5 separate regions of the Homo sapiens genome follow, and all the other regions are linked to region 4. The links come from fine-mapping of genetic effects on gene expression. A gene starts in region 4. Each other region holds a variant in brackets. All regions are shown on one strand. Distances are from middle to middle.

Region 1 (5,100 bases), 940 kb after region 4:
TCCCGGGGGTAGGCGTCCCGGTCAGCCAGGCTCAGGTTTTGGAGACCTGCGGTAAATACCCTGGAGACAGGGACCTCCAGTTAGCAAGGCAGGAACTTCAGGAACTCGTGCCCTTAACGCCCCAAAAGGGGGCCAATGAGCTGACTCCCTTTACCCACAGCCTCCAGCGTGGGGGCCGTGCTTGGTTGTTATTTGGGAAGCTGGGGAATGGCTTTCTTTCATGAAAATGCTCCCAAGAAGGGCTGCAGTGGTAGGGCCTGATTCTAATGAACTGCATGAAGTTCACATCGGAGTTTCTGGGTGCCACATGCAGGGTTCTGGCAGGGGTAGCAACATCCATACACTGTGTCTGATTTCAGGGTAGATGTTTGGGACTGGCAGGGAAGGCAGCTGGCACCCTCTTCCCTTCATTTCCCTGCTCATGGCCCACAGATGTCCGTATGGGGTCCTGTCTCAAGGCGGACACAGCCCAGCATCCTTGGAAGACTCTCATCCTGGTGCTGATAAAAGCCATGAAACCGTGGAGGACAGAGCTGGGGGAGCCTCTTACATGAAACATGTGGAAGGTGTCAGCCTGCAGGCCCCTAGCATTTGCCAGGCCAGCATCTGCGTGAACCCCCGGAATGACAGTGAAGAGAGAAACCTGTTTCCCTGGAAGGAGAGGCCCATTTGGTGACCTTGAGATGCTGCCTTTTGGCCATGGCAGATGGGACTTAGGCAAGGCCTGGTTGGGCAGCCGTCCACGGGTGCATCCCTGTCTCCATGGTAGTGAGGCAGCTGCTGTGTCCCCAGGGCCAGCAACAATGAACGTGCTCCTCAGCCCACCTGTGTACTCAGGGGTCTCCACCTTGCCCTGAATTGGCTCCACTCCAGCAAGGCCGGCCCCTTCCCTCCCGCACAGAAGCCTGTCTCTTCTCACCTAGTGACAAGGATGCCCTCGTTGCCCGTGCTGGAGTGGCCTCCTCGGAGTCCTCCTCTGAAGAAGCTTTGCCCTTGGTGGGCTGAACCTGTTTCAGCAAAGACCCCCCTAAGCCCACTTATGAAGAATCTACACACTCTGAAATCAGATGAAGTCCCTTATCCCCCAGCCTTGATATCTGGTGAGGTCAGCTCCTCACTCTGCACGCTCCCGTCTCCCCGCTCCGCTTGCTGGCTGTGTGCCCCGACGGCATTGCTCTAGTGGGAGTTGAGCTCAGCTCTGTGCACGAGTCTCCCCTACAGCAGGAGCTGGAGTGGCATCCGCCTTGCTGTCTTTAACAAGCGTCCAGCGAATCATTTTTCTTTGGCATTATTCCGGGACTCCTTTCCAGCTGTGGTCCCCCTCTCTGTCCTGCATCAGGAATATTTCTTCCTCTCCTGGGCCACTCCCATCAGCATCCAAACAGGCCGCCTCACCAGTTTCCACCCCATTCTATCCCGTGTCTCTGCTTCCCTTCACAATAGTGGCCCACTGGCCATCCTGCCACTTCTCAGCCACACCTGACCCTCCGGTCCCGGCCTTCACTCTGCCCTCCGCCTGCGACCCTCCTCCCCACAGGCACACAGGGCTCGCCCCTTTGTCTTGTCAGCTCTTTGCCCCAGCGTTGCCTTTTTGGAGTTCCTCTGTGCTTGGCCCATCTCAGTGGACCCCAGCCTGTTCTCCCCATCCCTCCGCCCTGCAGCTTTGTCCCCTGTGTGCCCATTGCTGCCAGCCATGCTGCTTGTTTGCTCAGGGTGTTCTCCTCGGAAGTGTTGGCCCCTTTTGTTCACTGTCGTATCTCAGGGCCTGGAAGGATGCTGGACACACAGCGGGTGTTCACTGTGTGTTCTTAGACTGATGGGATTCTTTGACTTGGGAACTCGGGCTGGACACTAGAGCAGCGAGCCCTCAGGTGGCAGGTTAGATGTGGGTTTACGGAGAGAGAGCAGGTGATCGGTCAGGGTTAGATGTGGGGTGACGGAGAGAGAGCAGGTGATCTCTCAGGGTTAGATGTGGGGTGAGCTAGAGAGAGCAGGGGATCTCTCAGGGTTAGATGTGGGGTGACGGAGAGAGCAGGGGATCTCTCAGGGTTAGATGTGGGGTGACGGAGAGAGAGCAGAGGTGGAGGGAGTGGCTGGGTCCTCCTTACTAGTGGGAGCCACA[G/A]GTGAGGGATGAGGGATGCCTGCCTGGGGTGGGGTCAGAGTGTCCAGTGGGCTGGTGAACATTGCCGGGTTGTGGGGACGCTCAAAATACTTTCCTGTTCAGCCCACGGCCACCCCCAGAAGCTGAGACATCCTGACGGGGCCTCCGTTCCTGGCCACCTCCAAGCTCACACATCACGGAGCCCCCAAGCCTGGAGCAGCCCTCTCTGGTACTCGCCCCATTCGGCCCAAACACACACCCCGTTCTTTTGTTGGGCTCTCTTGAAGGCTGGGCCCCCGCCCTGTGGGTCTCCTCGCACTGCTTGGTCCTGTGTGGCAGGGCCACTTGTCCTTTCCCCTCTTCATTCCTCCCCGGCTCCCCGATGTCACCCTCCCTCCCAGGCTCCCCCATGTCACCCTCCTTCCCCAGCCTCCCTGCTGAGGCTACTTTCCCTCCCTGGGCACTTCAGGGACACTTCTGGAAGGCAGACGTGACCCTGCCTTCCCCTGATCAGGGACCCTCTGAGCTCTGCAGGGTTTTGGTGTGGGCACCTGTCTCTAATGTGCTCACAGCCCAGGTGCCCTCTCCATGGCCCATCTCTAGGCAGGGGCAGGCCTCTGCAGCAGTGTCTGCAAGGTGGTGGGCGGTGGTGCAATGGCAGGCAGGGGACGGGGAGGAGAGCATGGCTGCTGTGGTCCCCCAGGACAGCTGCGCTTAGCCCCTGGTGTGGGTTTGTGCATTCACGGGCTCCGTCCCTACCGTGGACATCATCTGGTCATGGCAGATGTGGTTTGTGCAAGCCTGGGATGGACGTGGGTGGTGTGGAAACCCAGGCTGGTGGCAGGGCCTCTCGAACTCGGCCAGGCTCTTGCACTCCACGTTGTGTGGCTTTGGACAACTTGCCAGGCCTTTTGGAGCCTCTATTTTTCCATCCGTGAAATGGGCGTATAACACCTCCCAAGGCTGGAGGCCACAGTTAAAGGAATGTGACCATCTCCTGTTGCAGGAGGATCCCTGAGTGACTCTTGGGGGGAGATGTTATAATTCGCTTGGTTTCAGTCCCTCCCTCAGAATCCTGGGAAGATACTCCAGCCTGGATATTCCAGTCCTTTTCATCATTTTCCATTATTCAATGGAATTACTGAATTATTCCATTATTTAATGGAAAATGGAGAGGTGGCAGGAAAGTGCCCTCCAGGGCGGGAGGCAGGAGGCAGGGCTTGGACTCTGGACCAGATTGAAGACTAGCTAAAACAGGGAAGAGCCTAAAGCACCTCCTATAAGACACACCCACCGGTGCCATGTCAGTTTACCATTGCCATGGCAACTCCTGGAAGTTACCACCCCTTTCCATGGCAACAGCCCAGAAGTTATCATCCTTTTCCTGGAAATTTCTGCATAAAGTGCCCCTCAATTTACATGTAATTAAAAGTGGGTATAAATATGAGTCCAGGCCAGGCACAGTGGCTCACGCCTGTAATCCCAGCACTTTGGGAAGCCAAGGCAGGCAAATCACCTTAAGGTCGGGAATTCGAGACCAGCCTGGCCAACATGGTGAAACCCCGTCTCTAGTAAAAATACAAAACTTAGCCAGGCATGGTGGTGGGCGCCTGTAATCCCAGTTACTCGGGAGGCTGAGGCAGGAGAATTGCTTGGACCTGGGAGGTGGAGGTTGCAGTGAGCCGAGATTGTGCCGCTGCACTTCAGCCTGGGTGACAGAGCAAGACTCTGTCTCACAAAAAAAAAAAAAAAAAAAAAAAAAAGTGGGTGCAGCACTGCCTTTGAACTGCCGCTCTGGGCACACTGCCCATGGGATAGCCCTGCTCTGCAAGGAGCAGCACCTCTGGTACCACTTCAATAAAGACTGCTGTCTAACACCACCAGCTCGCCCTTGAATTCTTTCCTGGGTAAAGCCAAGGACCCTCCCAGACTAAGCCCCAATTGTGGGCCTGCCTGCCCTGCATCATGGGTGTTGGACTCCGGGTGGTTTGGAAGTGCTGGTTCTAGTATCAAAGACCCACACATGGATGTAGCTCAGAATGCTTTTGTGCCCGGGAAAAAGTTTGGGGTGATGTGGTTCTGTCACCTAAAGGGTCAGTCAGCTGGGCTGGTGAGAACAATGCTCTTGGCTGGAAGTAGCAAAGAAAATTGCGAGTCACTTTCAGTTATTTTCTGCCTCTTTCATGGGCTTTTCTAGACAATTTCCTTGTTTTCTTCCCTTGAGGTCTGGTCTCATTCTTCCAGCAATGACGTGGTGGATTTAAAAAACGTCCACCATAGTCTTTTGCCATTCCTCCCTCCAAGAAACAGAGGCTAATTTCCTACTCTCTTCACACATAGAATATGGAAGAAGTGGCAGTGAGGAACTTCCCAGGCCAGGTCAGAAAAGGCACTGTGGCTTCCCCTCTGTCCTCTCTTGATCACTTGCTCTAGGGCTCCTGCTGCTGTGGTGTGGGACCTTCGAGCAGCCTGTGGAAGTCATCCTGTGAGGAACTGTGGCCTCCCCCAAGCAGCGCATATTGGAGGCAGAGGCTTCAGCCCCAGTCAAACCCTCAGATGATGGCAGCCCCAGCCAACGTCATGACGCAGCCTCTGGAGAGACCCTGAGCCAGGGCCACCCACCCGAACTTACCCTGGATCCTGACCCACAGAAACTGCAAGTCGATAAAGGTTTGCTGTTGTTTTAAACTGCTAAATTTTGGAGTACTTTGTTATGCAGCAGGAGATAACTGACACAAATACTAAGAGTTGAGAACTTTTATTAAGCCTTTTCTTTGTGCCAGGCACTGGGCTAAATGCATCAAAAGGATCTCACCATCTTCCCAGCAGCCCACAGGGAGCAGAGGTTTTCATTACCATCATTCTCAGAGGACACGACTGGGGCTCAGAGAGGGGAAGAAACCTCTCCAGCTTGCACAGCTGGTAAGTAGTGGGGCTGGCGTTTGAACCCAGGTCTGCCTAATTTCAGAGCACTTGTTTGCGTCCAGCACGTGATCCCA
Region 2 (5,100 bases), 22 kb after region 4:
GCAGCCCCACTGGCTTCTGCCTCTTCCTCCCACATCATGAGGAGAGGGTGCTGTGGCCTAGGCCCAGGGTTGGGCAAGAGCTCATGGGTGAGCCGCTCCAGACCCCTCTGCAGGCCTGGCCACTGCCTTGGGTACCGTTCTGCAGCTGCCTCCCAGCTGGCCCAAAGCTGGAGAGGGTGTCCAGGCCACACTACTCTTTCTTCCAGTTCCCACCGCTCCTCGATGTGGACGCCTCCAGCTCTGCACCCAGGGCGGCACCTGCTGTGCTGTTCCCATGGCTGGCCTGCCTGCCAAACCTTCGGGGCACTGGTAGCACCTGGCCACCTGTCTCGATGCCACCTCCTTTCCTAAAACATGAGAGAGTTTCTCAACTCCCTGGGATTGTAGACAGGTTTCTCAACCTTGTCATGCTCTGCAGGTAGCCTGGAGGGACCAACCACAGCTCTGGGGGCTCTTGAGGGCTCTAGCCAACCACTGGGGTGCCAGATGGTTCTCCCCTTGTCTCAGGCTCAGCAGAGTCACCCTGGAACCACAGAGGCCTGGGCTAGGCCCTGGGTCAGCAGTACGATGAGGGCTGAGCAATTCAGGGACCTGAGGGAGGGCATGGCAGGCTGTTTCTAGAGATTCAGAAGGCTTCCTAGTGGAGGTGAAATGTGAGCTACTGAAGCATATGTGGGGCTTGCTGGGCAGAGACAAGGGAAAGAGTTACTCTCAGAGAAAGCAGACCATCCAAAGCTACCGGGACATAGAAGCCAGCAGCCTGCTGCGGGACAAGGGGCTGGAGGGCAGGCTTGATGTGGTCAGATGGGCCAACAGCAGGCTGAGGGGCACAGGAGCCAGGGAGCCCACCTGTGGGAAGGGCAGGCTGAGGCTGGAGACCCAGAGAAAAGTGGGGAGCCTGGGGGATCCTTGGGGAGGTCGGGGGATCCATTGGGAAGCCAAGGGTTGTGTGGGAAGGCCGGGGGATCCAAGAGGCCTAGGGTTTGTCAAAGCGGCCAGAGGCTTTGTTTAATAACCTTTGACACTTTTTAAAATGTGCTTCCTACTTACGCGTCTATGGCCTCTATAATTAGACAGTCCTGATAGAGGCCTAAGCACAAGGCCAGACGCTGCCCGTGGCCCTGCCCACCTCCCCGGCCTCTCACCTGGGACAGGGTCATCAAGGCCTCCAAGGGAAGCGCCGTGAGGGAGGCCCTTGCACGGGACATGCCCCAGAGCCTCACTCCAGGCCCTGGGTCTCCTCCCCATGTCCTCAGGAGTGTCTGTGGGCCAGCGGTGGCAGGATGTCCTGCCTGTGGCCCGGAAGCACAGCCGAGACCACATCCTGCTGTTCAATGACGCACACTTCCTGATGGCATCCCTGGGTGCACACGACCCCCAGACCACACAGGAGCTGCTGACCACCCTGCGGGACGCCAGCGAGTATGCAGAGGGGCCTTCTCGGGGTGGGGGTCCTCACCCTGCCGAGAGGGTGAGGGGGTGCTAGGGCCATGCTGAGACCTGTTCAGTGCCTGCCCCGCCTGTGAGTGCAGCAGGGGGGATGCCCATGGAGGCAGCTCCCAGGTGTGCACCCCTATAGATGTGCATCCCCTGGTGCAGACCCCCAAGGTGTGTACACCCACAGCTGTACAACTGGTTGCCCCAAGACACAGAGCTGCCTCCATCCCCAGGGTGGGTATGAGATCCGCAGGGTCACAGGGCTGCCTCCCGTGGAGAGGACACAGTGAAGCCCTGAAGCCAGAGACACCTGCTGCTTACAGGCCCTGAGGTCCTGGACGAGGTGCTTCTGTGCTCTGAACCTCAGTTTCCCCATCTAAATCAGGGCGATGCCTGGCAAGAGCTGGTGAGGGCTGACCTGGAGGACCTGGGCTGCCCTGCCCATTCCCTTCCGGGGGTGATGATTGCCTTGGCTTGCAGTGCCAGGCCTTTGCCTGTATTATCAGCAATCCTGACGGTTCTGTTAGATTGGCACTGTTATGCCTGCTTACAGATGAGCAAACTGAGGCTGGAAGGTGGGGGACCAGGTAGCTGGAAGTGGGCGAACTCCAACCCAGCTCTGAGCTCAGT[A/G]CCCTGTCCTGTCCCCTCGATGGGCTGCCCCGCCTGTCACCTCACCTCATCAGTGTGGCATGTGTCAGGCACTGGACCAGGGACACCTCGCTGAGGAAGAAATGGCTCTGCCCTTCCCGGATGTTCTGTGATGGGCAGGCAGCTGAGGGCACCGTCTTGGGTTCGCAGATCCCCAGGGGAGAACTGCCAGCACCTCCTGGCCCGAGACGTGGGGCTGCCCCTGTGCCAGGCCCTGGTGGAGGCTGAGGACGGGAACCCTGACCGCGTCCTGGAGCTGCTCCTGCCCATCCGCTACCGGATCGTCCAGCTCGGTGGGAGCAATGCCCAGGTGAGCCGATGGCCGCCAGCTGGGGTGCCTAGGGCCTGGGCCAGGGAGTCTGGGCGCCCCGCAGCCCCCAAGTTTCTCCCATGGTGTTGGTGCCAACAATGTGGGTGTGAACGTGTCTCTCACACTCCCGCCGTGTAAGTTCGTCGTTGAGGGTGTGGCATCAACACCACTGTCTCCCTGGAGAGCAGGCAGCCCGCGGTGGGCGGGGGCTCGCCTCCCCCATCCTGAGGTACAGGAGACTCACATGCCCGATTGACATTTCAGAGAGACGTCTTCAACCAGCTGCTGATTCACGCGGCCTTAAACTGCACCTCCAGCGTCCATAAGAACGTAGCCCGGTGAGCTCCTGGCCCCTGCCCAGCACTCCCGACCTTCACAGGCTCTCCCTGCAGACCTCAGGAGTGCCTGGAAGCCCCACCACCCTTGGCCCGAGATGCTCCTGCTTCTGAGGCTGTGAGGTCGGGAGGCTGTGGGGAATTTGGTTCTCCTTTGTTAGCAGGCTCAGTGTGACCAAGTGGAGCCAGCCCCACCCCAGGCCCAACCTCCCACCCTTCCCAGCCCACTCCCTTTTAGCCTTGCTAAGCTACCTGGGTACGTAAACACGTCCTGCTCTTTCAGGCTCCTGGGCCTTTGCACGCTTGGAACACCCTTTCTCCTTTTTTGCACCTGGCCGACACCTAATGCTCAGTTAGACCTCAGCTCATTTCACCTGCCTGCCTGTGCTGGGTACCGAGAGGGAGCAGTGAGCAGGCACACCAGTCACTGGCTACCAGGAGCCCATCTGTAGTCGGGGGAGCGACAGGGAGCAATCAGTCCCACAGACACGTAAACTCGCACTGAGGGAGCAGCAGCTGAGGGCAGACCCGAAACCACAGTGGGTTTAGCCAGGCCAGGCATGGGGCTGGTAGGAGGGTGGCGTGGCTGGAGGGTGAGTGTTAGGGTGGCATGGCTGGAGGGTGAGTGTGTTAGGGCAGCGTGGCTGGAGGGTGTTAGGAGGGTGGTGTGGCTGGAGGGTGAGTGTTAGGAGGGTGGCGTGGCTGGAGGGTGAGTGTTAGGAGGGTGGCGTGGCTGGAAGGTGTGTTAGGGTGGCGTGGCTGGAGGGTGAGTGTTAGGAGGGTGGTGTGGCTGGCAGGCGAGTGTCAGGAGGGTGGCATAGCTGGCAGATGAGAGTGCTGGGGGAACTCCAAAGAGCCCTCACCATTGCCAGCAGCCTTGGTGCTTCCATGGCCCAGCTTGCCTCCCTCCACTTAGGCTGCTGAGCTCTTGGCCAGCAGCTGCGTAGCCCGTGTGCCTGAGCGGCGAGTTTGACACCTCTCCTTGCCCATGTCCCTGCCACCCTCAGACATAAGTGAAAGGAAGAATAGAGGAGTCATGGGGTGCCTGGTGGGGAAGGTGTGCTGTGAGAGCAGGTGGCAGCCCGGGTCCACAGGAGGCCCTTGGCTGGTGACAAGCCCAGTGGTTTAGGCGCAGGTGCACCAGCGCAGCTCCCTCCAGGCAGGGTTACCCAAACTGAGCTGTACAGGTTCTGTGGTACTCATGAAACAGGTCTGGCTGGCAGCACTGGAACCGCCTAGAACTGTAAAATGTCTTGGACGCATGCTCCCCGCTTTCCCCTTCCATGGCTGTAGACAAAACCATGCGTGTTTCTTTGGTGGTCAAGCCCCCTGGGGAGCTCAGGCTGTGGTGTGGGTGGGAGTTGGTGCCTCTGGCAGCAGCGGTGGGGAAAGTGGCTGTGTGGACAGGAGGGCTGAGGATGGAGCTGGGGTGACATCTGTGGGGCAGTGCGGCAGTGCCGATGTGGCCTTCTGCGGGGCCCAGTGGGGGAGGGCAGGGGGAGAGCAGGCTGCACAGGGAGCCGACTGCATTAGGAGACGTGGAGGGGGCCTTCTCTCCAAGTCCTGTCCTGCTACCAGGCAGCATCCATGGGGCCATCAGCACAGCTCACCAGCCCCCAAGGTGGGAAACCTTCCACCCACAGCCATGGTGCCCCCCACAATGAGTTCCCGGCCCCAGCCCCTTCACACCACCCACGCCCTCTAGAACCACTGTTTTCAGGTGTTTGGGGGCTGTCTTAGTCAGTTTGGGTTGTTATTTTAAAAGTGCCACAGACAGGCCGGGCACGGTGGCTCATGCCTGTAATCCCAGCACTTTCGGAGGCCAAGGCGGGTGGATCACCTGAGGTCAGGAGTTCAAGACCAGCCTGGCTAATATGGTGAAACTCCGCCTCTACTAAAAATACAAAAAATTAGCCGGGCGTGGTGGTGGGTACCTGTAATCCCGGCTAGTCGGGAGCCTGAGGCAGGAGAATCGCTTGAACCTGGGAGGTGGAGGTTGCAGTGAGCCGAGATCGCGTCATTGCACTCCAGCCTGAGTGACCGAGGGAGATTCTATCTCAAAAAATTAAAAAATAAAAGTGCCACAGTCTGGGCGGCTTGCACAGTAGGCATGCACTGTCTCACAGTTCTGGAGGCTGGAATGTCCAGGAACAAGGCCTGGCTGGGTTCAGTTTCTGCTGAGGCCTCTCTTCCTGGCTTGTGGACAGCCACTTTCTTGCTGTGTCCTCACATGACCTTTCCTTTGAGTGCTAATTCTTTCACGTCTCTTCTTTCTTCTTTCTTTTTAAATTTTTTTATATTTTTAGAGGCAAGGTCTCACTCGGTCATCCAGGTTGGAATGCAGTGGTGTGATCACAGTTCACTGTAAAC
Region 3 (5,100 bases), 30 kb after region 4:
AGTAGCTGTCAGTGAAAGTTGGTGAATGAAGGCATAAATAAATGAAGTCAAACTCTGTATTAGGCCTTCTTGCATTGCTATGAAGAAATACCTGACGCTAGGTAATTTATAAAGAGGTTTAATTGGCTCACAGTTCTGCAGGCTTTTCAGGAAGTATGGTGCTGGCATCTGCTTCTGGTGCAACCTCAGGAAGCTTAAGATCATGACATAAGGTGATGGGGAGCCAGTATATCACATAGTGAGAGCAGGAGTAAGAGAGAAGGGGAGGTCTTAGACTCTTAAATAACCAGATCTTGTGTGAACTAAGCAAGAACTCATCACCAAGGGGATGGTGCTGAACCATTCATAAGGGATCTGCCCTCACGACCCAATTACTTCCCACCAGGCCCCACTTCCAACATTGGGATCACATTTCAACATGAGATTTTGAGGGGACACACATCCAAACTACAGCAAATCCTATTGGGGGCAGAAATGAATCTGCCATACATAGGCCACACCTACTATGTGCTGACATGATACAGGGAGAGGAGTATCAGGAATGACTGTTGGGGATCCCTCTGCCATTCTCCCATGAGCAGACATCCCCAGGATGAGCTGAGGGGAATGCAATGAGCAGGCCAAACTCTTTCCAAGCTGTTTGACCACACCCACCTACCCCAGCACTCTCAGCCCCTGCCTGGTGCCCTGTGCTGAGCTGGGTGAGGCTGGGGAGACTGGTGAGTGAGGGCTGCCCTGCCCTTTTTGAGCCCCCAGTCTTCTGGTGAAGGAACATAGCAACATGGAGTGATTGGTATGGATGATGCAAAACCAGGGACATGGGACCCAGAAGTGCCCGAGCCAGCCTGGAAGGCCTCTGCCCTGGGCCCCGGGTGGCTGTTTGCTGCACAGCTCTCCCCACAGCCTGCCCCAAATAAACAGCTTATCTTCGTCCCTGAAAATGGTGCTCTCGAGTTCCATCCTTTTCAGAGCGGGTCCTCCCAGACTCCTCTTCCTGCATCCTCCTCCATCCCGCTTAGTGACACTTTGCCGTGGGTGGAGCCCCTCATTTGATCCTCAAGCCCCCGAGGTGGGTATTATACCTCGTTCGCAGGCAAAGGCTCAAGCGAGGTCAGTCTTAAGTTGCTGCCCACTGACCCGTCTACCAGTCCTGTCCTTGCGTCTCCATGGCTCAGGTCAGGGTTATCCTATCTGCTTCCCACCTCTCTCCAACACATGCACTCCCCAAGGCAGGCTCCATCACCGGGCCCCAGCCCCTGGCTCTCTCCTCCAACGCAGCTCCCCAGCCGGCCTGTAAAACCGAGGACAGGCTCCCGCCACGCCCTCGGCGGTCCTCAGGCCTTGGCGGTTGGGGAAGCCCGCCAAGGGCGACGGTTCCCCTCCAGCCCCACAGGCTGTGCAGCTCCGGCAATGAGTCTCCCTCAGGTCTCTGGGTCAGCCGGCGCCCCAGTGCGTGCCTCGGGGGCAGGGATCCCGGCTTTTCACTACTGTTAGTAACAGCTCGCGCGCGCTGCTTCACAGCAGGTGGGTGAGCCTACTTTTAGTCTTCCCATCGACACCCTTAGATGGCAGTTTTAACTTTCTCCCTACACACAAGGAGCTGCTATACATGGTTCCGGCTTGACGCGGATACCTAGTGACACTTGGCGGCCAGGCCGGGCAGACTTCCGGGTGGGTGATCCCTGGCGCTGTGCGGAGCCATTCGCTGCGCTGAAGCAGTGCGCATGCGCACTGGACGCTTCTTACCAGCGTCCTGACTACAATACCCAGGACGCACCCAGCCCGCCGCCTCTCGGAGCCCTTTTCAAACCGACCAATCGGCAACCCGCGTCTCCCGGCGCCGCGTTTAAATCCGTGCCGGAGGCGCGTCCTGCATCGTCTGCCGCTTTGGGTAAGGTGGGGTCAGGGTCGGGGGCGAGGCTTGCCCGGTGGGCCCGGTGCGGCGCGGTGCCCGCCGTTTTCGGGACGGGGAGGGGCCGCGCCCCGCCAGGAGCCGGGCCTGGGCTCGAGCAGGGGTCACTGAGGCCCCTCGCGCCGTGGTCGGGGATGCCGGGAGGTCTAGGGCTGCCCCCCAGGCAAACAGAGCCCCCAACACTCTGGCCCAGAAGCCGAGAATTCCGTTATCTCGTCTGATGGCGTTCGGGCTGACTCCCGGCCTGGCGGCACTCGGGCCCTGGGGTCCCCTGGGATGCGATCATTTCAGAGCGGCCCCCGCGCCGCCTCTCCCAGACCTGGCCGCGGCCTTCAGCTCTCTCTGCCTCTGTGAGCCGAGGGCTGAAGGAAGCCGGAGCCCTGGGCCCTGACACGTACTCACTTTCTGGCCCCGTTCCACCCTGCAGTGACTTCTGACAGCTCTCTCCATGGAAGGAGGCGGCGGCCGCGATGAGCCTTCAGCCTGCCGGGCAGGGGACGTGAACATGGATGACCCTAAGAAGGAAGGCAAGTCCTTGCTGCTGCGGCGCTGTTGTTGTTCAGGATGTTCAGTAGAGATGGAGGGTGATTTAATGTTTCCCTGAGAAATTCTTTCTCAAGTGCTCGACTTGTACTCTGCACCTGTGAAACACATGACATCTGCCTTCGTTTTCTGGTTTTCTTTCACCTCCTCCCCATTTTAAGTTTCATCACAGCCAGGATTCTCATCCGTTTTATTTACCGCAGTGCTCCCATGCCCTGAACAGCACCTAACACTTTGTGGGCTCTCAAATATTTATTGTATTGAATTCGATGTTTTCTTTTTTGTTTGTCGCTGGTTTCTGTTTGCTAAGACTTATTTAGGATCTTTGAGACCATGTTAATGAGTAAGCCTGGCCCCA[A/C]ACCCCTTTCTTCTTGTGTCTTTGACTGGTTTGGGTATCAAGGTGAGGGTACAGCTTCACAGAATGAGTTACAGGCCACACCCTCTTTTTCTCTCAAAGCGTTTTTATTTATTTATTTATTTATTTATTGACGGAGTCTCGCTCTCTCACCCAGGCTGGAGTGCAAAGGCGTGATCTGTACTCACTGCAACCTCTCTCTCCTGAGTTGAAGGGATTCTCCTGCCTCAGCCTCCCTAGTAACTGGGATTACAGGCACCCGCTGCCACACCTGGCTCATTTTTGTATTTTTAACAGAGACGGGGTTTTGCCATGTTGCCCAGGCTGGTCTCGAACTCCTGAGCTCAGGCAATCTGCCTGCCTCGGCCTCCCAAAGTGCTAGGATTATAGGTGTGAGCCACCTCACCCAGCCTCACAAAGCATTTTGACATCCCTTGGGTAGTTTTCTCACACTACCCAAGGATCCTTTCTTTTTGAGACCAAGTCTCACTCTGTCTCCCAGGCTGGAGTGCAGTGGCATGATCTTGGCTCACTGCAACCTCTGCCTTTCGGGTTCAAGCGATTCTCCTGCCTCAGCCTCCCGAGTAGCTGGGATTACAGGCACCCGCCACCACACCTGGCTGATTTTTGTATTTTTAGTAGAGATGGGGTTTTACCATGTTGGCCAGGCTGGTCTCAAACTCCTGACCTCAGGTGATCCACCTGCCTAGGCCTCCCAAAGTACTGGGATTACAGGTGTGAACCACCGCGCCTGGCCCCAAGCATCCTCAATGCCTCCATTTTGCAGGAACTGTCCTGGAGACTTTACAAATCAATGTTGCATCTTCATATCTAGCAAGGCGCTTGCCTCTGCACCCCTCTCCTCCTTCCTGTCATGTCCTTCCTTTCAAATATGTCCTTTCCACGTGCATACTGCACCCCCTGCTCCTTCTTGAGGCCTTCCCCACTTCCGTTGACCTGACTTCATTTCCTTACTTTTCCCCTGTCCACTACTGGATCATGCGCATCCACATACAGATAATGTTCCCTTGTCTCACTTGTCGCCACGTCTCCTCCGTTGCCTCTCCATTGCTGTGTTTCTCCTTCCAAGCCAAACTTTGAGAGCTTTCTCACTTGTTATGCCATTTTTTTCCGCCTCTCAATCCCTCCCATTCCGGCTTCTGTCCTTACCACTCCATTCAAGCTGCTTTCATCAGTCGTTGACGACTTCCACATTGCTGAATCTCTTTTCACTTTTCTATCGCCAGTCAGCTTTTCAGTAACATTCGTCCTTCTGGAAACTTCCCTTGCTTGGAGTCCAAGACGCTCTTGGTTTTTTCCTCCTGCCTCTCTGGCTGGTGTATCTTTTCTCTGTCGGGGGCTCCCCCTCTGCTGTCTTCTGAGGCTGATTTCCCCAAGACCTGCTCTGGGACCGCTTTGTGCTTTCGCCCTCAGGGCGGTCAGCATTCCAATAGCTGTGCAGCGTATCTGCTCTCTGCGGCACCCACGTTTTGTCTTGAGCGCAGCCTCTCCTCCGAGCTCTGGGCTTGTATATTCACCTGCCTATTTGGCGTCTTCACATGCACGTCTCATCTCAAACTTGGCATACCCCCTCTGCATCTGCATACCCTGTTCTTTTTGTCTTTCTCATCACCCATTTTATTTCTCCATTTCACCCAGCTGTGCAAGCTGAGAACCTCCTACATTCATGCCATCACCAGCTAACGTCTTCTCCACCTTCAGAAGATATCCTGAATCCATCTACAGACTCTCCATCTCCATCCACATGCTGCTGTCTGGGTCTCAGCCACGCTGTCTCACCGGCTTCTACTTCCCGTTGGCTAATATGTGCATTTGTAATGTCAGGGGATATTATCTGCTTCCTTTCGGATACACTTTCTACACAGTAACGTCACCTTTTAAAAACACAAGTTAGATTATAAAGCTCTTTTCTTTTCTTTTTTCTTTTTCTTTTTTTTTTTTGAGACAGAGTCTCACTGTTGGCCAGGCTGGAGTGCAGTGGCGTGATCTCGGCTTACTGCAACCTCCGCCTCTTGGGTTCAAGCAATTCTCCTGCCTCAGCCTCCTGAGTATCTGGGACTACAGGCGCCCGCCACCACGCCCAGCTAATTTTTTTTTTTTTTTTTTTTTTTTTAGTAGAGATGGGGTTTCACTGTGTTAGCCAGGATGGTCTCAATCTCCTGACCTCGTGATCTGCCCGCCTGGGCCTCCGGAAGTGCTGGGATTACAGGCATGAGCCACTGTGCTCAGCCTTTTTTTTCTTTTTGAGATGGAGTCTCGTTCTGTCACC
Region 4 (5,100 bases):
CAGTGGGGCAGTCAAATCCTAAAGCTCCAAAATTATCTCCTTTGACTTCATGTCTCAAATCCAGCTCATGCTGATGCAAGAGGTGGGTTCCTATGGTCTTGGGCAGCTCCGCCCCTGTGGCTTTGCAGGGTACAGCCTCCCTCCTGGTTGCCTTCGTGGGCTGGTGTTGAGTGTCTGCAGCTTTTCTAGACTCATGGTGCAAGCTGTTGGTGAATCTACCATTCTAGGGTCTGGAGGATGGTGGCCCTCTTCTCACAGCTCCACTAGGCGGTGCCCCAGTAGGGACTCTGTGTGGGGGCTCTAACCCTACATTTCCCTTCCACACTGCCCTAGCACAGGTTCTCCATGAGAGCCTTCCCCCTACAGTAAACTTCTGCCTGGCATCCAGGTGTTGCCATATATCTTCTGAAATCTAGGCAGAGGTTCCCAAACCTCAATTCTTGACTTCTGTGCAACTGCAGGCTCAACACCACATGGAAGCTGCCAAGGCTTGGGGCTTGCAATCTCTGAAGCCACAGCCCGAGCTCTACATTGGCCTTTTTCAGCCACAGCTGGAGCAGCTGGGACACAGGGCACCAAATCCCTAGGCTGCACACAGCTTGGGGACCCTGGGCCCAGCCCACAAAACCACTTTTTCCTCCTGGGCCTCCAGGCCTGTGATGGGAGGGGCTGCCATGAAGACGTCTGACATGCCCTGGAGACCTTTTCCCCATTGTCTTGGGGATTAACATTTGGCTGCTTGTTATTTATACAAATTTCTGCAGCTGGTTTGAATTCTCCTCAGAAAATGGAATTTTCTATCACATTTTCGGTCTGCAAATTTTTCAAACTTTTATGCTCTGTTTCCCTTTTAAAACCGAATGCTTTTAACAGCATCCAAGTCACTTCTTGAATGCTTTGCTGCTTAGAAATTTCTTCTGCCAGATACCCTAAATCATCTCTTTCAAGTTCAAAGTCCCACAAATCTCTAGGGCAGGGGCAAAATGCTGCCAGTCTCTTTGCTAAAACATAACAAGCATCACCTTTGCTCCAGTTCCTCATCCCCATCTGAGACCACCTCAGCCTGTACCTTATTGTCCATATCACTATCAGCATTTTGGGCAAAGCCATTCAACAAGTATCTGGGAAGTTCCAAAATTTCCCACATACTCCTGTCTTCTGAGCCCTCCAAACTGTTCCAACCTCTGCCTGTTACCCAGTTCCAAAGTTGCTTCCACATTTTCAGGTATATTTTTGGCAACACCCCACTCTAATGGTACCAATTTACTGTATTAGTCCATATTAGTACTCAGCTCAAGTGCAAAATTTAAGGGTGGAGGGGCACCAAAAACTCAATAATCAAGACAAATTCTCTTTTATTGAGGTAAAGTTCACATAAAAGTAACCATTTATGGGAGGCTGAGGTGGGAGGATTGCTGGAGCCAGGAGTTCAAGGCTTCAGTGACTTATCATCCCTATCCCCTCAGTCCCTGGTCACCACCAATCTTCTTTCTGTCTCTATGTTTGCGTATTCTGGACATGCATGTAAATGCACTAATACAAGTGTTACCTTTTGTGTCTGCCTCTTCCTTCAGTATGAATGAACCTTGAAAACGCTGTAGGAAAGGTGTGTCTTCTTTGGAGAACTGTCACCTCAAATTCTTTGCCCACTTTAAATTTGGGCTGTTTGTCATTTCGCTGTTGAGTTGTAAGAATTCTTTTTTTTTGAGACAGAGTCTGGCTCTGTTGCCCAGGTTGGAGTGCAGTGGCACAATCTTGGCTTACTCCAACCTCCACTTCCCGGGTTCAAGCGATTCTCCTGCCTCAGCCACCCAAGTAGTTGGGATTACAGGCATGCACCACCACGCCTGGCTATTTTTGTACTTTTAATAGAGATAAGGTTTCACCATGTTGGCCAGGCTGGTCTTGAACTCCTGACCTCAGGTGATCCACCTGACTCAGCCTCCCAAAGGGCTGGGATTACAGACATGAGCTGCTGTGCCCGGCCAAGATTTCTTTATGTATTCTGGATTCTAGACTCTTACCCAATATATGATTTACAAATGTTTTTTCCCATTGTGTTAATCTTTTCAGTTTCCTGAGTAGTGTCCTTTGATTCAGAAAAGTTTTTAATTTTGACGAAGTCCAACTTATCTATTTTGTTGTTGTTGCTTGTCCTTTTGGTGTTACATCTAAGAATCCATTGCTAAATCCAAGGCCATGAAGATTTACTTCTGTTTTCTTCTAAGAGTTTTATCTTTACAGCTCTCACATAAAACAAATAATACTTCAGTGCAATATTTCAAAAATCAAAACTAATGCAAAAAGTCCATGATGAACAAAATAGCATTTTAAATAAAGGCCAGATCTGCCCGTGCACTTGGTTCTACGCCCTTGATTCGTGCACCCTGGGGCGGGGGCAAATTAAACTAGGGGAGCCCATTGGACTGGGGCTGGTGTGTGGCTGATGGCAGAGTTCAGGCCGGGCCAGACCGGGCCAGTCCAGAGGGAGAAGCCGCTACTGCAGGAGACAGAGCGATTTTTCCGCTGCAAATCCTTGAGAAGGGAGGATGGAGGCGGCGGGACGACCCAGTGAAGCCGGCCCCGAACGCCAAGTGAGTGTGTGCCGTGCGCGCGCGGGTAGCTGCCGACCGCAACGACATAAACTTGAAAGTGACCGCTGTCCCGGAGCTCCCTGCTCCCAAGGGACCCGTCGCGTTGCAGAGTTGTCCGGTCGGGCCTCTGGGGCGGGCCCGGATCCTGGACCAGGGCCAGTCTGTCCGAAACCCACCAGTGAGCGAGCGGGAGAGCGCGGCCGCCCCGCCCCGCCCCTTTCCGCGACCGCCCCGCCCACTCCCAGGAAGGCCCGGGTGCCCAGAGCTCGCGGTGGACTCCGACCCGGCGCAACATGGCCGCAGCCTCGCCTCTGCGCGACTGCCAGGTACACGGAGGCTGCCCCCAACCAGGTCCCCCTCGGGCCCCGGGTCCTGGGGGTGGCCCGGTGCTGGCGGAATAACGGGAGACATGGCCCGGGCGCGGGGCGTGGGGTGAGCCCTGGGCGCACGGGCGCGTCCGCGGCAACGCCTGGAAGGGACCCGAGGCCCTTCTTGTAGAGTCCCCACCGAGGGAAATAAGGGACGCCTGTCAGGGTACTCGGGAGACCCCAAGACCTCCTAAAAAACGTAGCTCACTGGGCATGGCTGGGGACGCAGGGAAGCCCGCAAAGGTAAGGGGCTCCTTGGAACCGGCCCAGGACTGGGAGCCTGAGCCCATTTTACAGATGAGGAAGGTGGAGGTCAGAGGGGCCAGGAGACGTGTGTGTGTTGAAGTTTGAAGGGCTCCTGGAGAGAAGGCACTGCTATTCCCTTCTTGCCGTCTGTAGGCCTGGAAGGATGCGAGGCTCCCGCTCTCCACCACAAGCAACGAAGCCTGCAAGCTGTTCGATGCCACGCTGACCCAGGTATGCCTGCCGAGAGAGGCCGCGGCCCCTTCTGTGGAGGTCTAGGGGAAGGTTTTTTAATTGGGGAAAGCTGTTTTTTTGTTTTGTTTTGTTTTGTTTTGTTTTGTTTTTGAGGCGGAGTCTCGCTCTGTCGCCCAGGCTGGAGTGCAGTGGCGCTATTTCGGCTCACTGCAAGCTTTGCCTCCCGGGTTCACGCCATTCTCGTCCCTCAGCCTCCCGAGTAGCTGGGACTACAGGCGCCCGCCACTGCCCTCGACTAATTTTTTTTGTATTTTTTAGTAGAGACGGGGTTTCACCGTGTTAGCCAGGATGGTCTCGATCTCCTGACCTCGTGATCCGCCCGCCTCGGCCTCCCAAAGTGCTGGGATTACAGGCGTGAGCCACCGCGCCCGGCCATGGGGAAAGCTTTTTAAATTGCGCCATGACCTTAGCAATAGATGGCAGCACATCTGTGCACTTTGTACTGGAGGACGTGGGAGGGTGGGGACATATCTCTGCCCCCCCCCCACAGCGTCCTAAAAGGGCCTCTGCACTCTCCCTTCTTCCCCAGGACTCTGAGTGGTGGGTGGACAGCGGTGGGTGCAGTGGGGATGTTTTTTGAGGATGCTGGCCTCCCCGGGCCTCCCATTGTGGCCTGCTGAGGGTCTGATGCAGGGCTCGGCTGCTTAGGACGTGGGATCCTGTCCTGGGATGAATCTGTGAGTATACTGCCTTCACCTAGGCTGTGCCAAGACCTTCTGCCACATTACCAGTCATTTCTCTACCAATGAAGGGTCCTATAGTTTTAGAACTAGGAGAAGTCTCAGAAGTAAGATCCAACTAGCTTCCTTGACAAGTGGGGAAACTGAGGCTCAGAGTTGAACCTACTTGACTTGAAGGTTGTCCATGAATTACAGGCAGAACCAGGATGAACCTGGGCCTAACTGCACTGATAGAAACCTAAGCTGACCTTGGCGTGGGTGGTGAGGCCCCTGCATACTGACTTCATCCACATAACAGGAGGACTCAGGTAGCTCTTAGAAGCCTACGGGCTGAACAAGAGAGGACTGATGGAATGCTGTGAGCTGCGCCATGGGTGCCTCTCCTGTTCCCAGCCTGCCCTGCCAAGGGACTCTGCTGTGGGCATCTGAGTTGTTTGTTTATTTTGTGTTTGACCTGGCTCACTTGCCCTTCCTGTATCTCGCCGGCCTCTGTAGAGTACTCGATTTGTTTTTTGTTTGAGACGGAGTCTTGCCCTGTCACCCAGGCTGGAGTGCAATGGCGCAGTCTTGACTCACTGCAAACTCTGCCTCTCGGGTTCAAGCGATTGCCCTGCCTCAGCCTCCGAAGTAGCTGGGATTATAGGCACGCACCATCATACCCAGCTGATTTTTTGTATCTTTAGTAGAGACGGGGTTTCACCATGTTGGTCAGGATGGTCACAAACTCCTGACCTTGTGATTCCCCTGCCTTGGCCTCTCAAAGTGCTGGGATTACAGGCGTGAGCCACTGTGCCCGGCCCCTAGTACTCAGTTTGTTACACACCACATCCCCAATCAGTGGCAGCTCATCCTCCCAGCCTGGGTATATTTTGTCCCGTGTATTGGTGTCTCTGTGCTGTCCTGTGTTAGAACTTGGCTTCTTTAAATCTCTGTGCCAACCCTCCTGTATCTTGTCAAAAT
Region 5 (5,100 bases), 150 kb after region 4:
CCAGCAAGTGTCACGGAGGCAGGGAGTGCATGGACACGGTGCTGTGGGTGACCTGAGACGCACAGACGGGGGTCCCCAAAGCATTAAACGCAGAACTACTACATGACCCAGCACCACCAGCCCCAGGCGTGTACCCAAAAGAACTGAAAACAGGAACTCAAAAACCAGTTCATGAGTGTTGACGGCGTTGCTATTTACAACTCACAAGAAGTGGAAACCACCTAAATGTCCATCAGTAGATGAGTGGGCAAACTGTGGCCCATCCCTGCACCGGAATCGCAGCCACCGAAAGGCACGAAGCGCTGACACACAACGGTGCGGGGGTCCCGGAACACATCGCGCTCAGTGAAAGCAGCCAGACACGAAAGGCCATGCACCGCGTGACTCCATTCCTACACAATGTCCAGGACAGGCACATCCACAGACACAGAGCAGACAGATGTTGCCAGGAGCTCAGGGAGGAGGATGGGGGGTGACTGCTAATGGTATGGGGTGATGAAAATACTTCTTTTGAGATGGAATCTCGCTCTGTCACCCAGGCTGGAGTGCCGTGGCATGATCTCGGCTCACTGCAACCTCCGCCTCCCAGGTTCAAGCGATTCTCCTGCCTCAGCCTCCCAAGTAGCTGGGACTACAGGTGCCCATCACCACACCTGGCTAATTTTTGTATTTTTAGTAGAGATGGGGTTTCACCATGATGGCCAGGCTGGTCTCGAACTCCTGACCTCAAGTGATCCACCTGCCTCGGCCTCCCGAAGTGCTGGGATTACAGGCATGAGCCACCGTACCATCCAGCCTGGGTGATGAAAATATTTTATTATTTTTTAAAAAGTTACTATTGGTTAACTGATGGCATGAAAACATTTTAGATCTCAATAGAAGTGGTGTGGTACAATACTCTGAATATACTAGAAGCCCCTTTAAAGCTTAATTTTATGCTATGTGAACTTCACCTCAATAAGGAAAAAATTAAAAAAAAAAAAAGATTCCTGGGTGGGCATCCCCCCTCACCAGCCCCCTGCCACTCTCCACCTGAAGAACTTTCGGGAAGATCCTTCCAATTTTTCCCTGACATGGAGAGAAAATGCATTATTTGGCCTTCCTGCCAGGTGGCTATGAGTGATAAAACGCAGTCAGAGAGGTGAACATTCTCCAGGAGGGGTCGAGAGGCGCATGGACAATTACACAGGCGGCTTGAATAGGGATAAGTGAAAACAGCAGCAGATGTGTGTGATCTGGGCTCAGATCATCCATTTTTGTCAAAGGAAGACAAAGTGCGTCTCCGCTGAAAGGCCGGCGTGGAGCACGAGGCGGCGGCAGAGAAAAGACTACGTGGTGGTAACAGCTCCCGACTGTGGGGTGGCGTGTCCGCCTCTGAGTTTTCCAGCCAGGAAAAGCACTTGGTGGCTTGGCTGGGTCACAGCTGACGATGAATGGTACAGGTTGCAGAGGGGGGCGGATAAGGAATGAGACAGACGAACCGCCTCCTCACATTTCTAAGAGGAATTTTTAAAGTTTGCCACATATTTATACAAAAGAAAAAGACAGCGTGGGAATGAAGGGGGCCACAGGGTTGTGTCTGAGTTTTTTCTCAATTCTTGTGTTGGAAAGCGCCGGGCACAGGATGGGCCAAGGCCAGCACGGTGGAGGCCCCAGCGCCCCGGCACCTGCCCTTCCAGGGCTCAGCTGGGTACTGCGCAGCAGCCGGCCAGGCCCAGAGGACCCCCCCCAACCCCTGCACCAACACCCCTTGCAGGAAAGGCAATTCCCAGGCCTCGCTTCCAGGACATAAAGCTCAGTAGCTGGACCTGGTCACTCAGGCCGAGCAAGGCAGGCAGCGCACACAGTGACTGGAGACAGCAGGGGCTGCCCACGGTACCTCTACACCCCTCGGCGGGCAACCCTGGCCAGCACAGGCTCCCTGGGGCAGGCGGAAACAGAGCCAGCAAGGAAAAGCCACATGCTCACTCCTGCAGCCACCTGAGAAAAAACCTACAGTGCCGCTGAGCACTGCAAGGAGTGGCCCAGAAGCGCTAAGCTGTGCAGATCCGGAATCCTGCTCCAGGAGTCATCCCCGGGGTCCAGCCTCTTCTTATTTTCCTTCGAGGTATTTTCTTCCCTGCGTGCAGGCCCTCCTCCTTGGCTTCCACTCAGCCGCTCTACGCAGTGCTGGGAGTTTCTGTGTGCGCACAAAAGCATTTGGTCCTTACGAAGTGCTCACATTTCTCCAGCCTTTTAACCTGCTGCAGACGATTCTGCATTGGGAGGCCGGTGGGGGTACGGTTTCAATGCTGGGGAAGGTAGCAGGGGAAGGCGGTGTGGGGGGGTGGGAGGGGCACGTCTTAGGAAATGAATGAATTCATGCTCTGTGTCAGAAATGATTAACCAACGTTCATATCAAAGAATTCACAGATGGCTGGACCTCAGGAATGTCTGTACAGAGTCAAACTGCAGCGCTGAACGTTCCATGCTGTCATTTCTCAAGATGACAAAGTTCAGGCCTGTCTGGCCGACAAATGCCCCAGGAAATGTGGGCAAGACCCCGTGCCAGTTCTGGCATGGAGACGACAAGCTCTCCCTC[G/A]GAGGCAGCCACTGCAGTTCTCCGAAGCTGCTTGGGAAAGTGGTGGGAAGGGTCACGAGGAGCAAATTCACGCAGATGCACGCAGCCTTCCAGAATTCAAACTGGCCTCCCAGGAGCCTCGGACAGGACTTTGCCAGAATGCAAACCTCAGACCGAGCTGCTACTTCCTGGTGGTCCCAATACCCCTAGGCAGGTAACAGGACCCTGTTCCGCCAGGTAGCCACCCTCTACACAGGGGCTGCCGGCTGCTTTTGATGACCTGGCTCGAAGGGTGCGGTATTCCCCCAGGGCTGTCAGCAGCAAACCGTCTGGAAGCCCAACTGAGCCACTGGGCCACCGGGTGGGGAGGGCAGCTCCACACTATCCCAGGTTGTAAGGGGAACTCAAGTTCCTCTGCCCAACTCTGGCTGAGGGGGACAGGTGCTCCTGAATCCCTCACCTGCCAGGGACCTGGGGCAGAAGACATACTCTATGAGCCTAGGCAGACTCTTCTAGAAAGGGGGTAAGTGCATAGCTGCTATCTCTAGGGCTGTTTGGGAATGAAATGAAAGGACGGATCTGAAACTGTGCAGTGTCTGAGCTGGCGTGGCTGATATTACTATCATCCTCATTCTCAACTCAGAGTCCAGCTGGGCGGGCCCAAGGCCGGCGGGGGGCTCACAGGACAGCAGTGTCCACAGCATCCAATGGACATCACCTCCTTAAAGCCAAGGGTCCATATCCTGCCCCTACTTGGGAAAGTCACATGACTTCCCTGCATGCCAGGACTTGGCTGTACAACTGGGGGTAAAAATAGCATCTTCCTCGTGGGACGACATGAATGACATGTGTGAAGTGCTTGCAGCCATGCCTGCTATTGTTACTTCTTGAAAAGATGTGAAGAAAAGCAAAATAACATGCAAGTGGTTTTCTCAAGTTTTGCTGTTTTAATACTTCCCTATATTAAAATAACATAATACAGGGGCTGAACGCAGTGGCTCACGCCTGTAATCCCAGCACTTTGGGAGGCCGAGGTGGGCGGATCACTTGCAGTCAGGAGTTTGCGACCAGCCTGGCCAACAAGGTGAAACCCCATCTCTACTGAAAAAATACAAAAAAAATTAGCCAGGCATGGTGGTGGGGGCCTGTAATCCCAGCTACTTGGGTGGCTGAGGTGGAAAATCGCTTGAACCCGGGAGACGGAGGTTGCAGTGGGCCGAGATTGTACAACTACACTCCAGCCTGGGCGACAGAGCAAGATTCCGCCTCAGAATAAATAAATAAATAAATTAAAATAAAATATAACATAAAATCATAAAGTTGATTTTTACATCTTTAAAGAAAAAAGCAGCAAGTAAGCAACTCGTGCAATTAGCCTCTCCGCTGAACCCGCAGGCTCTTCTCCAGGAGCTAAGACGCAAAGCCACCTGCAGCTTGGAGTTCGGGCACTGGCCCGCCATTTCCTCCATTTATTCAACTATCCAAGAAAGTAATGCACGGTGCTATTAGGCTTATTGTGGGAGCATTAGAAAAGTTTTCAACAAAGGTCAGAACCAACCGGTCACCTAGAGATTCTTAAAGAAATCACACAAAGCCTTTTATTTCTCAGGCAAGGGGGTCTAACCCGTTTCCCCGATGATTCTGGCCAAAGACAAAAGTGAGGAGCTCTGTGCTTTCCTGATGGACGTATACAGTACATTTGGAAACACAAGAACCGTGGGTCCGGAGGCAGGAGTCCCCTGGGCATGCGTGTTCAGCACTGGACGGAGATAAGCTCCTCCTACAGAGCTCCATGATCCCCGTGGTAGTTAATTTTGTTCTGGAAATGATCCAGCAGGGCACCGTGCCAGCCCCCACTGAGCCAGACCCTGGACCAAAGCCCCCAGTTCCATGGGAGGAAGCCAGGGCCATCTCAGCCCTGCTCCTTTGGGGCTCAGCCATCGGGACCAGGTCACCTCTGCGGCCAGGCTACTCCCCCAGGTGTTTTGGGAGCCTGGGAATTATATGGGGATTTGCTCAGAGGGGGGTCTTCTTGCCAATGACAAATGAAGGGCCAAAATGCAGTGAGATACAGCGCCTTCTTGGAAAGCAACACGTTCCTTCTCTTGGGGATTTTATAGGCAAAAAGTTGCTTGGTACAACCTGAGGGACCCTCCTCAAGCACTCAACAAGAAGCTCACTCATGTTCCTCTATGGGTGGGAGGCATCTCAATCCTAATGCTACTCCCAGCTAGAGAAATCCTGACAAGCGGGACAAGGAGGAACGCACACTTCCGAGCTGCAGCCTCCCGGGGCCTGCCTCCTCCACACGGGCACCGGGACAGAGTGCCTGGGATGGGGCCTCTGAGCTCAGCCCCCACAACACAGTAGCCTGAGTGTCCCGGGAAAAACAGGAGAAAACTTCAGGAAGGATGGCAGGTGGGCTACAGTTCCCTCGAAAATGACTTTTCTGAGCAAGCAAAAAAGCTTACCAAAAATGTGTACACTCGCCCACTCACACTCACGTGTGTACACTCACCCACACTCGTGCATACTCAAAC

What was found. PIP is the estimated chance that this variant, and not a neighbour inherited with it, causes the effect.
Region 1: its variant is fine-mapped to the expression of TTC38 in pancreas (GTEx, PIP 0.91).
Region 2: its variant is fine-mapped to the expression of TTC38 in whole blood (INTERVAL, PIP above 0.99).
Region 3: its variant is fine-mapped to the expression of TTC38 in whole blood (INTERVAL, PIP 0.95).
Region 5: its variant is fine-mapped to the expression of TTC38 in substantia nigra (GTEx, PIP 0.91).

Annotation. Positions count from the first base shown.
Region 1 is chr22:47,202,961-47,208,060 of GRCh38, forward strand. No RefSeq gene overlaps it. Among named protein-coding and RNA genes, the nearest start is that of LINC01644, 280 kb to the right of the region's middle. The variant G/A (reference allele first, on the strand shown) is at 2,123.
Region 2 is chr22:46,287,167-46,292,266 of GRCh38, forward strand. TTC38 (tetratricopeptide repeat domain 38) reads left to right here. Exons shown (of 14, transcript NM_017931.4): 11 at 1,257-1,422; 12 at 2,236-2,395; 13 at 2,660-2,733. Among named protein-coding and RNA genes, the nearest start is that of GTSE1-DT, 6.9 kb to the right of the region's middle. The variant A/G (reference allele first, on the strand shown) is at 2,068.
Region 3 is chr22:46,295,041-46,300,140 of GRCh38, forward strand. It overlaps GTSE1 (G2 and S-phase expressed 1), which reads left to right and starts at 1,830. Exons shown (of 12, transcript NM_016426.7): 1 at 1,830-1,891; 2 at 2,340-2,439. The coding sequence starts at 2,361. It overlaps GTSE1-DT (GTSE1 divergent transcript), which reads right to left and starts at 1,620. Exons shown (of 1, transcript NR_024009.1): 1 at 103-1,620. RefSeq lists a silencer at 1,888-2,087 and an enhancer at 2,238-2,347. The variant A/C (reference allele first, on the strand shown) is at 2,814.
Region 4 is chr22:46,265,153-46,270,252 of GRCh38, forward strand. It overlaps TTC38 (tetratricopeptide repeat domain 38), which reads left to right and starts at 2,856. Exons shown (of 14, transcript NM_017931.4): 1 at 2,856-2,920; 2 at 3,362-3,439. The coding sequence starts at 2,888. RefSeq lists silencers at 2,753-2,912, 2,923-3,132.
Region 5 is chr22:46,414,656-46,419,755 of GRCh38, forward strand. All of the region lies in intron 5 of CELSR1 (cadherin EGF LAG seven-pass G-type receptor 1), which reads right to left. Among named protein-coding and RNA genes, the nearest start is that of TRMU, 81 kb to the left of the region's middle. The variant G/A (reference allele first, on the strand shown) is at 2,582.